4 separate regions of the Homo sapiens genome follow, and all the other regions are linked to region 2. Evidence: fine-mapped expression QTL. A gene starts in region 2. Each other region holds a variant in brackets. All regions are shown on one strand. Distances are between the middles of the regions.

Region 1 (2,686 bases), 120 kb after region 2:
AAAAGTGTGGGAGGGAATAAAGGATGCACAGCACTTGGACATGAAGGATGGGGTATCCACAGAGCTATTGGAGGGAGAAGAGGTGTAACAAACCAGGGTCACCCCATGTCCCCATGTTCAGGGACAAAACACAGACGAGTCTGAGAATTTTAAATTTAAACCAGGTTTCCCAAGTCCTCGTAAAGGCACATTTGTCGTGGTAGGAGAATAGAACATACTTTAGTTAACAGTTTGTTCTCTTGATGTATAATTTTTTTAATATTCAGACATAAAGTATAAGTGAACTTCCATCTGTCCTCTTGCCTCAGTCCCTGAAAATGCCAGTGTCCACCCAGCATCCTCATGGGTGGCACGAAAACCCAGACACAGGCAATGATGCTGTCTCTACTGTCAACTCAGACCATCCATCCATGGGCCCACTCGACCCTCCGTGCTTTACTGTTTTCCATAATCTAATTCTTTTGCTATCATTATGACTCAAAGCAGTCTCTCTTGGACATGAGTTTGTACCCACCCTCAAATAGTCTCAATGGATAAGAGGTAATCCTGCTTCCTCCCCTGTACCTTGGGCTCCATGCTAACCACACCTGCCCTGTCTGGCCCCACTGCCAGAGGAAGGAGTCAGACGTCTGAACAAGAGGATGGGGTGAGGTAGAACATTGAGAGGAAAACCCTAAGCTTCAGAGAACCTGCAGAGCCTAGCAGAAATTATTTGGTAGTTGCAAATAGTGCAAAACTGAATAATAGGAAACTGGATTTGTGAAATATCCTATGTCCTTGTCACTCCTAACAAAAGACATGAATGCCATTGGTCAGCCAAGACAGACTTTTAAACATGCCTGAACTTCTGAGGCACAATTGCTGCCACCAAAACCACCTTTCTGGTGATGGCAACAGATATCTCTGAGAGCATTACATGGATTTTTATGACTCTTTCATAGACACACAAAATACTAAGTTATTTTGGAGAACTGTTACTTTCTTTATGCTTTTCCCTTGCTAATTTCTGGAGTCTGGTTGTGTGATGGTATTAAATATTAATACCTGTTATCGGCACATTTACTATGTTTAGAAGGTGTCATGGTATGTTGTTATTTTGATATTAGACACTGTGCTTCCGCTGACTGTCCACATGGAATCCGTGGGCTTACAAGGAAGACATTCTTCAGAGGAGGCTATCTGTTCTCCGGCCCACTTCCTAAGAGAAAGCATGGAAATTTTAAGGCTCTAATCCTACAACACATGGATGCAA[A/G]GACATGCACAAACACACAGCGTGGTCAATTTGCTTCACTGGTCGATATATTTCACTGGGAGTTTAGCACGTGTTTCCGTGGACTTTTTTCATTGTGTGATCTTCAATGCTGATGTGTTGACTTGGACAAACACCCGGAGACTTCTCTAGAATTCCAATTTGTGCAAAAATGAAAGGGCTGAGAAACATGATTGGCTAGTGGACTTGTAGAGAATAAAGTAGGTTTGTATGCTATAGAGAGAGGAAAGATCTTCAGATCATAGAACTCTGTAAGAAAAATCCAACCACAGAGAGAACACATGGACTCCCTAAACTCTTTCATTTCTTTGGTATTTCAAAGTGGTATCAAAAAATATGTATTTTTTTCCAGACCGGTTGCAGTGGCTCATGCCATCCCAGCACTTTGGGAGGCCAAGGCGGTCGGATCACTTGAGGCCAGGAGTTCAAGACCAGCCTGGCCAACATGGTGAAACTCTGTCTCTAACAAAATTACAAAAATTAGCTGGGCATGGTGGTGCACACCTGTGATCTCAGCTACTCAGGTAACTGAGGCAGCAAGACAATTGATGAACCAGGAAGGTGGAGATTGCAGTGAGCCGAGATCATGCCACTGTACTCCATCCTGGGCAACAGAGTGAGACTCTGTCTTAAAAAAAAAAAAAAAAAAAATTTCCAGCATGTTTTGTGGGTCAACAGCATGGTATGTGTGTTGCTGGCGTTTATCTGTCCTAGGAATTCTTAAAGATAAGCATGGCTCTTCCTATCATCTTATGCTTTAGAGGAAGTCATTCTTTTTTTTTTTTTTTTTTTTTTTTTTCTGAGACAGCGTCTCACTCTGTTACCCAAGCAGGAGTGCAGTTGCATGATTAATGCAGCCTTGACCTTCCAGGCTCAAGCGATTCTTCCACATCATCCTCCTGAGTGGCTGGGACCACAGATACATGCCACCATGCCCAGCTAATTTTCTGTAGAGATGAGGTTTTGCTGTGCTGCTGGGCTCAAGAGATCCTTCTGCCTTGGCCTCCCAAAATGCTGAGATTATAGATGTGAGCTGCTGCACCTAGCCGAGAAAGTCATTCTTTAAAAACCCTTCTCTTTAGCCTAGATGACTTCCTTGTAAAATCCTATGCACTTACTCATTCGGCAAACATTTACTGAGCACATACGTACCAGGCAGCACGTAAGGTATTAAAGACACCACTGTGAACAAGCAGATGAGATCTCTAATGTCTGGTTCCATAAAGGAAGATCTTTTCTTCTTCTCTCTTCAACCTCCATAGAAATGGAACCCACTAAGTCTAAAATAACAGACCGAACATATGGCTTCCTTTAACTATTCCCGATGGCAGCATTTTACTTGGTTAAGATGAGAGCCAGAAATATTTCGTGTCCTACTAGTGACAAATAATGTGGTTTCATGGATAAAGCACTGGT
Region 2 (2,686 bases):
GCCTGGCACCAGCAGGTGTTCAATTATTTATTTAATGGGTGACTTGGAGCAGAAACCGAAGTGCAGTGGACTGTTTTCCTGGGATCTGAGCTGATGATAAATGATAAATAAGTCTTGGGATTTTAGAAGGCAGGAATCACGAAAACCAACACCAATGAAATCCAAGTCTCCTCTGCTACTATCTGAAGTGGAACAGAACAGAAATAAGGTCTGTTTTCTTTCCGCTTCGCTGTTCTGTTTCTGTCCAAAACAACCGTCTCTCTGACACCTTCGAGGTGTCCCTTTGTCTCTTTGAGGTTCCCTCCGTGACACTGGCTACTTTGTAACTCTAACACTGTCAGCAATTAATTCCCAAAGGTGAGGTCCCCGTGGGAAGTGGGAAAACCCAGCGAATCACCAGGGACCCGCCTGATTCCGAAAAGGCTGGATGCTGGCTGGGAACCGGCCCCGCAGCTCCGGCGTCCCCGCCTGCCTGCGCGGCCTTCAGCTGGGGTTACGGAGGGCTCCCAGCGCCGATCCAAACCGCGTTCCAGGCGGGGTGGGCGGGCCCCTGGCCAGCGAGGCCGAAGCAAAACAACCCGCCCAGGCGTCCAGAGCGTATCCAACCCTGGAGAACCTGCCCCGGAACCAAGAGCCGCAGCCAGCTCAGGCCTCTCGAGTGGGGCCTTTCCAGCCCCTGCAACAGATCCCGGGATCTGTAGTTGGGCGGAGGGGCTCGTTATGGGAAAGGGGTGCGTGCGCGTTTGTGCTAAAACAAGAAAGGCAAGAATCTCCGAGAACAAAACTCTGGTCCTCGCCTGGCCGGGGACCGCAGAAGACAGGGGCGGCAGCGCCAAGGCGGGTCAGGGGCCGGTCCAGCCAAGTTTGCTCCGGCTTAGATAAACTTTCTGATGGCAGTTTTTCCTGGTTGCAGCCTGGGTTCCTTGTAACAGGGTAAGCGTAGCGGGTGGTTGTCAAGAGGGGCGGAGGCTGGCGGTTACAGGGAATGGAGGGATGGGCCGGACCTGGGGTCGCGCAGGCGCCTTGGTCGCTGCCTCCGATCCGATCACCCCCGCCCCATCTCCTCTGCGAGCTCAGGAAGGTGGCTGGGGGAGGGGGATGGCTCCCTACTGCCGAGGGACGGCCCGAGGCAAACACAAAGCCCTTCCCTCCCCTCCTCCTCTTTCCTCTCCTCTCCCCTCCCCTCCCCTCCTTTCTCCCCCTTCCTCCTCTTCCTCCTCCTCCTCTTGCTCCTCCCGGGCGGGGAAACCCAGCCCCGCGCTCGTCTTTGGGGCCACCGGTCGCCCCCGCCTCCGGGACCTGCGGGGAGGGCCCGCGAGAGGTAAGGGGCGGTGGCAGCGGAGACCCCACCCCCTGTGCCCGCACCTAGAGAGCCCGGAGAGGCTCCGGGCACGGGCGGGGCTCTCTGGGGTTCCAGACGTGGGTGCTGCTGTGCGCACTCTCTCCCTACTCCGGAGGGGACTTGAGGAAGACAGCCAGAGCGCGTCCTCGGGGATCGTGGGGAACGGAAGGGGGAAGGGGGATCAGGGAGTGGGGACAAGGGGCAGAGTGACATTCCGGAGCGCGAGGTGGCCGCTGGTCCCGGCAGGGTCACCGGGTGTCCTCAGCTGACCTGTGCGGGGCTGGGGTGAGGGACAGCTGGAGGGTGCAGGCACTATGGCTCGAGGTGCGGAGGTGCGGGTGTGCGTGCGTGTGCACCGGACGGAGTTTGGTAGGGACCTTTGAGGAGTTCTACCTGCAGGGCTGCCTGTGGGGTGTCAAGTGCTCCCTGCGCCTGAGCGCGCGGGTCAGACCCGGTGTCGCACAGCTTTGATCCCCAGCGCGGACCCCACTGGTGAGTCCAGCCAGTGTGCAGGGCAGATGCTCCGACCGGAGATTTCCTCCCCCGGGTGGAAAAGCAGGAGGGTTGTTGTGTCCGGGCAGGGGGCACTTGGGCTGTCGCGGTGATTGATGGCTGCGCAGCGGGCGGAGGAGGAGCCCCGGATTCCTGCCGGGAAGGGACGGGGCCACTTTCCCACTTTGAGGCCTCCCCGCCCCCTTCTGGGCTTGGCCTCCACCCTTGGCCTGGGCTCCCACCAGCTCGGCGTCCACCCACCGGCGGTGGCGCGCCCCTCGACCGCGCGGGGACAGCAGGATTTGCAGAAGTTCAGCTTGAAAGCCTATGATATGTTGCCAAGAAATACAGGGCAAGATCGGTCCCCTGGGCCCTGAGAGGCGCCTGTCTTCTCAGAGCTCTTAAATCCCTGGGGCTTTCCTAATTCCGCAGTGTAGCGGCACTTCCTTGCGCGGTTTTGGGCACATTGGGGTTTCTTAGGAACACGCTGTCATCGGTAAGGAAACATCAGAGTACTCTTCGACCAAAAGGACTGTAAATACTGAAGCAAAAAGAAACACTTGCTGGGAGTGCAAAGGGCTTACTGGGAAAAAAGAAACACACAGGGCAGCACTCCATCATTAAGATAAATAGTATTTTAATACAATCTTTTTAACAAAACCAAATTGAATGTAAAAAATTCATGATAAGCAAAAATCAACATTTTAAATACAGGTGGGTGTTGTTAGAACCCTGCTTCATAGGCCGGGTGCAGTGGCTTATGCCTGTAATCCCAGCACTTAGGGAGGCCAAGGCAGGCAGATCACTTGAGGTCAGGAGTTCAAGACCAGCCTGGCCAACAGGGTGAAACCC
Region 3 (2,686 bases), 180 kb after region 2:
TTCGCTACACTATCACCAATGTAGCAACAACTAAACTCAAATTAAAGAAAATATTTAAGCCGGGCAGGGTGACTCACACCTGTAATCCCAGCACTTTGGGAGGCTGAGGTGGGTGGATCACGAGGTCAGGAGTTTGAGACCAGCTTGGCCAACATGGTGAAACCCCCTCTCTAGTAAAAACACAAAAATTAGCCAGGCGCAGTGGCTCATGCCTGTAATCCCAGCTACTCAGGATGAGGCAAGAGAATTGCTTGAACCTGAAAGATGGAGGTTGTCATGAGCCGAGATCAAGCCACTGCACTCCAGCATGGGTGACAGAGTGAGACTCTATCTCAAAAAAAAAAAAAGAAAGAGAAAGTATTTATTCAGTGGATCATATTTACCAAAATACCATGAGAGTGGAGCCTGAAGATTTACACAACCTAAGGAGGGAAAAAATTGTAAACAAGTGAGTATCATGTAACGAAATGGGACATAATAGAATACGTCAGATGAACAGAGGAGGACAGCAGATGTCCCAAGAACCTCAGGTGGGAAGCAGGTAATTCTAGGTCAGAGGTACATCAATTTCATTAACGAATAAGAAGTGTAAGATAAAAAATGCCCTAAAGAGCTGTTCAGTCTATCTTGACTGGTGATATCTGTTATCTTTGGGAAGTTTTTTAAAAGAAACATTTAAGATTTCTTTTTTTGATAGCCAAAAGTAAAACGTGTACATGGTGGAAAAAGCACAATGCAGAAAATAAAAATAAACAACACCCTGACCCCGACCCCACCCCCACTCCAAGATAGAATCATTTTTGATTGTTTGTTGGGTTGGCTGATTTAATTCTTTGCTTTGATGTGTATCCTTCTGATGTTTTTGCATGACAATCCATTTAAATGGTAGATCATGCATGATTTTTCACTGACCTACAAGGTGTTTTTGATCATCCTAGAAATGCAGTTTCCTAGAAATTGATTCTGTTTTTGTTGACGGGTAGCACCTTCCAATGTAGTGGCTAGCTTATCTGTTTACAGTAAACCTTGGCCACACAATGTCACCAGCAGCATACTCCAGAGTTGGAGCTATTTTGACCTTGGCCACACAATGTCACCAGCAGCATACTCCAGAATTGGAGCTATTTTGTGCTCTGTAGGCTTTGCATTGCTGCTATATTGGCAATTGGTTCTGCCATAAAATATCTGCTTAGTTAGAATTCATCTGCTAGGAAATAACACCAGTGTAACCCAGAGCAATTAAATACTAGAAACTGCCAATCCATGGAACACTTGCCTTTCCGTGAAGCAGGGTGCATGCCCCGGGCTTGAAGGGCATCGGGACCAAGACTGGAGCCCGCCTGGCTCCTTCTTCTGCCTGTTTTCAGCTCCAAGGGCAACCAGGACAACAGGTTCTTTGTTCCTCTTTCTTATTTTTACAGGAAC[A/G]AATGAAAGCCTCTGCCAGCATTCGCTCTGTATCTGGCCTTCTCATCTCTAGCTGGAGAGTCAACCAGAGGAAGTTCCTGGGCAAAACAGCTACCACTTTTTCTTACCTCCCGAAATGGCAGCGTCTCCCTGGAGGCAGACATGAGCTTTTGTTCCCATTTCTGTGTCCTCTTCTGCTGGGCCTCAGTTGATAGAACTTAAAAATTACCAAAGGCCCTAAAGGTTTTTCAGAATAGTCCTACTGTGACATGCTCTTACAAATCTTTTTTGAGGAAGTTGGGGCTCCACCCTCAAAAAGCAGCAGCCCTTCGCCATGGAGGAATAAAATCTGTAACCCCAAATATGCTAGTGATTCTTTTTCCTTTTAGAGTTTAATGGGACAAAAAAAGGCCTTGAGGAATTAAGTATGAACTTGCTTGCTCTAGGGAAACTCCCTAAGTCGGAAAACTGGACCTAGGACCAGTTTTATCAATTTCTAGCATTTTGATCTCAAATAAGGAGATAAACTGGATGGCCTCTGATAGCCCTTAAAACTTGGCTAAATATGCAGGGGTCCTTCTAAGACAATCCATTTCCCCATGCCTCTCTGCCCACCACTCTTCCCATGCTGGGTGGTGGGTAAAAGGTTTCTTCTGCTCACCTGGCAATTTCCATGCTGTCAACTGTGTTAGCCAGGCCAGGGTCCTGCCGTGTCCAGAATAATGGATTGGGGTTTCCCTTCTTCTCCAGACTAATAGAATATTACAGAGACATGTTTAATTCCATTTCAATATCCTTTTTTTTTTTTTTTTTTTTTTTTTTTACCTATAACTAGACTCAAGTTCTGAACTTCAAAATTCTAAAGAAATATTTTTATGTCTGAAGGTGTTAAGAAATCATTGGATATCAACTTCTATGTATTTTTGAAGTTGAAGTTTTTCTGGGAATTTTTTGTTTGCTCTGTGTGTGTGTATGTCTTTAACACAAATTGGAATTTGTCCTGTGCCAAAGATTTTTAGTTGATAGATATCTTCAGTATGGGCCATTATTTTCTGTCTCTCTACATAAGGGGCCTCTGGTACTAATATTCTTCCACAAGTTGTTGATCCCAGACCCACCACCTCTCTTCTCCCAACCCCGCTAAGTCCTGGCTTCATCTCCCACCTATCCAGGCATCTTGGCTGCAGCTTGGCATTTGAGGTGTATATTTGTGTTCCTTTTGATACATGGTCAAGGATCTACTGCCCCAAGATCAGGACCATGGTGGGCACAAGACTCTTGA
Region 4 (2,686 bases), 110 kb after region 2:
TATGCTTTTTATATCAAATTTCAAGCTTTTAAAAAACATTAACGTGAAATTGTGTTTCTAGATTAATTTTGGATATTTTATTTTATTTTATTTATTTTGAGACAGAGTCTTCCTGTGTCACCCAGGCGGGAGTGCAGTGGCATGATCTCAGCTCACTGCAAGTTCCACCTCCCAGGTTCAAATGATTCTCATGCCTCAGCCTCCTGAGTAGCTGGGATTACAGGCAGGCACCACCACACCAGCATAATTATTGTATTTTTAGTAGAGATGGGGTTTCACTATGTTGACCAGGCTGATCTCGATCTCCTGACCTCAAGCGATTCTCCCGCCTTGGCCTCCCAAAGTGCTGGGATTACAGGAGTGAGCCACCATACCTGGCCAGATTAATTTATTTTTCAACACACATGTTAGTGTTTTGCTGTGCGAAAACGTTAAACCATCACTAAGAATCTTGTTTATTTTTATTTTTTTTTTTGTTTAATGGAATGCATTTTTACATTTTTAAATAATTTCAAATTTACACAAAGTTTGCAAGTATAGTACAGAGACTCATAAGATGTCAGTTATCCAGATTAACACATTTTAACATTTTACCATATTTGTTTTATTTCTCTTTTTTACCTCTCACTCCACACACAACACGTGCACACATGCTCATGTGCACACACACACACTTTTTTCTAAACCATTGGACAGTAAGTTGCATGAGTCACGCCTCTTTACCACTCAATACTTTAGTGTTTACTTCTTAAGAACAAGGACATATTTTTACATCATCACAATCCAGTTACCAAATTCAGGAAATTTAACATTGATGCAATACTTTAATCTGTTGCCCATATTTCAGTTTTTCCAATTATCCCAATAATGTCATTTACAGCATTTTTTTTCAGTTAAGCATCCAACTGAGGATCATTTATTGAATTGAGTTGTCACTTCTGTTTAGAGACTCCTTCACTCTGAAATGTATCCTTAGCTTTTGTTGCCTTTTAAGACCTTTACGTTTTTAGAGCATGCAGGCCAATCATTTTTGTAGAGTGACCCTCAGTTTAGGTTTGTCTGATGCTCCTCACAGTAGATTCATGTTTTGCACCCGTGGCAGGAATGCCCCAGAGTGATGCGGTGGCCTCCTCAGTCCC[A/G]GATATCAGGAGGCACATGTGGCAGGTTTGTTTTATTCCTGGTGACACCAGCTCCAATAGTTTAGTTAAGATGGTGGTGTCCACCAAGTTTCTCTGCAGTGGGAGAATTTTAAGAGTTGTGGTTTGTCTAAAACTGAGAGATGAATCAAACTGGGAGGGTATTTAGACTTTGCTGGATGATGGCCCCAAAGCTGCTCTGAAAATGCTGTGCAGCTGGGTGAGCCGGCCTGCTCTCTGAACTGCAAGGCGTTTTCGTGGGACAAGAAAGGGCAGCATCAGCAGCCTGTTCTGTGGCTGGGGCTGCAAAAGCCATCAGTGTCGTCATGTCTGGCGTGGGGCATGCTGGTGCACAAAGAGCCGAACCAAGCTCCACAGCAGGAACTGACACCAAGCCAGGCCCCAAGGAGGCCTGTGAGTGTGGCCAGTTCCCTGCTTTGGTGACGTGATATTTATGCACCACGGCTCTTCTGAGGTTTCTCCAACTTTCCCATATAAAATGAAGATGGCCTTTCTTCTGAGCCAGGGCTGCCCAAGTGGCAGGCCACAAACCACGCATCGCCTGACCCAGGCTGGGGCAGCAGCGTCTCGGAGAAAAACAGGAAATTGGGACATACGCGCTTTCCACCGCCTGGCTACGTTATGAGTTTCTTAGTGGTTCCATGTGGCTTGAGTAACAGGGTAATTTTCCTTAATGCAGTAAAATACCCAAAGGAATGAAGATGTATTTTATTGGACAACGTTTTATTTTAGTAAATTATTTAGTGTCCAGCACTGTTTGAAGTACTCTTACAGATTCGCTCCTGAATTCATACCACACACTTTCACTGGGCCAGGAAACACGTGAAATGAGCAGGGCAGGTCTTAGGGTTTCATCCGGGTTTTATGATATGCTGGGCAGACCGTGAACATTCGACAACAGGCCGTGCTCCATCCTGTAGGGGCACACAGCCTATGTGAGATAAACAGACAGCTATAATCATGATGTTGTGGAGGCTGTCAGAGGGACCTTGGGGACCCAGAAAGGGGAAGGGCTGATAATGGGAATAGGTAATGAAGGGAAGCTAGCACAGAGATGATCTCTGACCTAAGTCTTGAGGGATAAAAAGGTGTTCACTAGCTGGGCATGCTGGCTCACACCTGTAATCCCAGCACTTTGAGAGGCCAAGGGGGGTGGATCACCTAAGGTCAGGAGTTCAAGACCAACCTGGCCAACATCGTGAAACCTTGTCTCTACTAAAAATACAAAAAGTTAGCTGGGTGTGGTGGCATGTGCCTCTAATTCCAGCTACTCGGGAGGCAGAGACAGGAGAATTGCTTGAACCGGGAGGTGGAGGTTGCAGTTGAGCCGAGATCACGCCACTGCACTCCAGCCTGGGTGACAGAGCAAGACTCCGTCTCAAAAAAAAAAAAAAAAAAAAAAAGTGTTCACCAGGTGGTGAGGCATTTTAAACAGAGACTGAGTGATGTATACAGAAACACGCAGGGTGGATGAGTCTGCGCTGGAGAGAGGGATTAGAAATGCAAATAAAGGTTTGAATGAAATTGAT

Direction of the effects. Alleles are on the strand shown, and positions count from the first base shown. SD is a standard deviation of normalised expression in the study named. Not every link is listed here.
For the expression in transverse colon of the gene that starts at base 1,252 in region 2, G is the low allele of the variant in region 4 and A is the other (small effect, 0.25 SD a copy in GTEx).

The links. PIP is the estimated chance that this variant, and not a neighbour inherited with it, causes the effect.
Region 1: its variant is the best candidate, but not a certain one, in a credible set for the expression of RIN2 in blood mononuclear cells (TOPMed, PIP 0.67).
Region 3: its variant is the best candidate, but not a certain one, in a credible set for the expression of RIN2 in whole blood (INTERVAL, PIP 0.60).
Region 4: its variant is the best candidate, but not a certain one, in a credible set for the expression of RIN2 in transverse colon (GTEx, PIP 0.84).

Annotation. Positions count from the first base shown.
Region 1 is chr20:19,878,350-19,881,035 of GRCh38, forward strand. All of the region lies in intron 2 of RIN2 (Ras and Rab interactor 2), which reads left to right. Among named protein-coding and RNA genes, the nearest start is that of RIN2, 120 kb to the left of the region's middle. The variant A/G (reference allele first, on the strand shown) is at 1,253.
Region 2 is chr20:19,757,007-19,759,692 of GRCh38, forward strand. It overlaps RIN2 (Ras and Rab interactor 2), which reads left to right and starts at 1,252. Exons shown (of 13, transcript NM_018993.4): 1 at 1,252-1,321. RefSeq lists an enhancer at 1,641-2,215.
Region 3 is chr20:19,941,776-19,944,461 of GRCh38, forward strand. All of the region lies in intron 4 of RIN2 (Ras and Rab interactor 2), which reads left to right. Among named protein-coding and RNA genes, the nearest start is that of NAA20, 74 kb to the right of the region's middle. The variant A/G (reference allele first, on the strand shown) is at 1,426.
Region 4 is chr20:19,866,545-19,869,230 of GRCh38, forward strand. The region is part of intron 2 of RIN2 (Ras and Rab interactor 2); the gene reads left to right. Among named protein-coding and RNA genes, the nearest start is that of RIN2, 110 kb to the left of the region's middle. The variant A/G (reference allele first, on the strand shown) is at 1,140.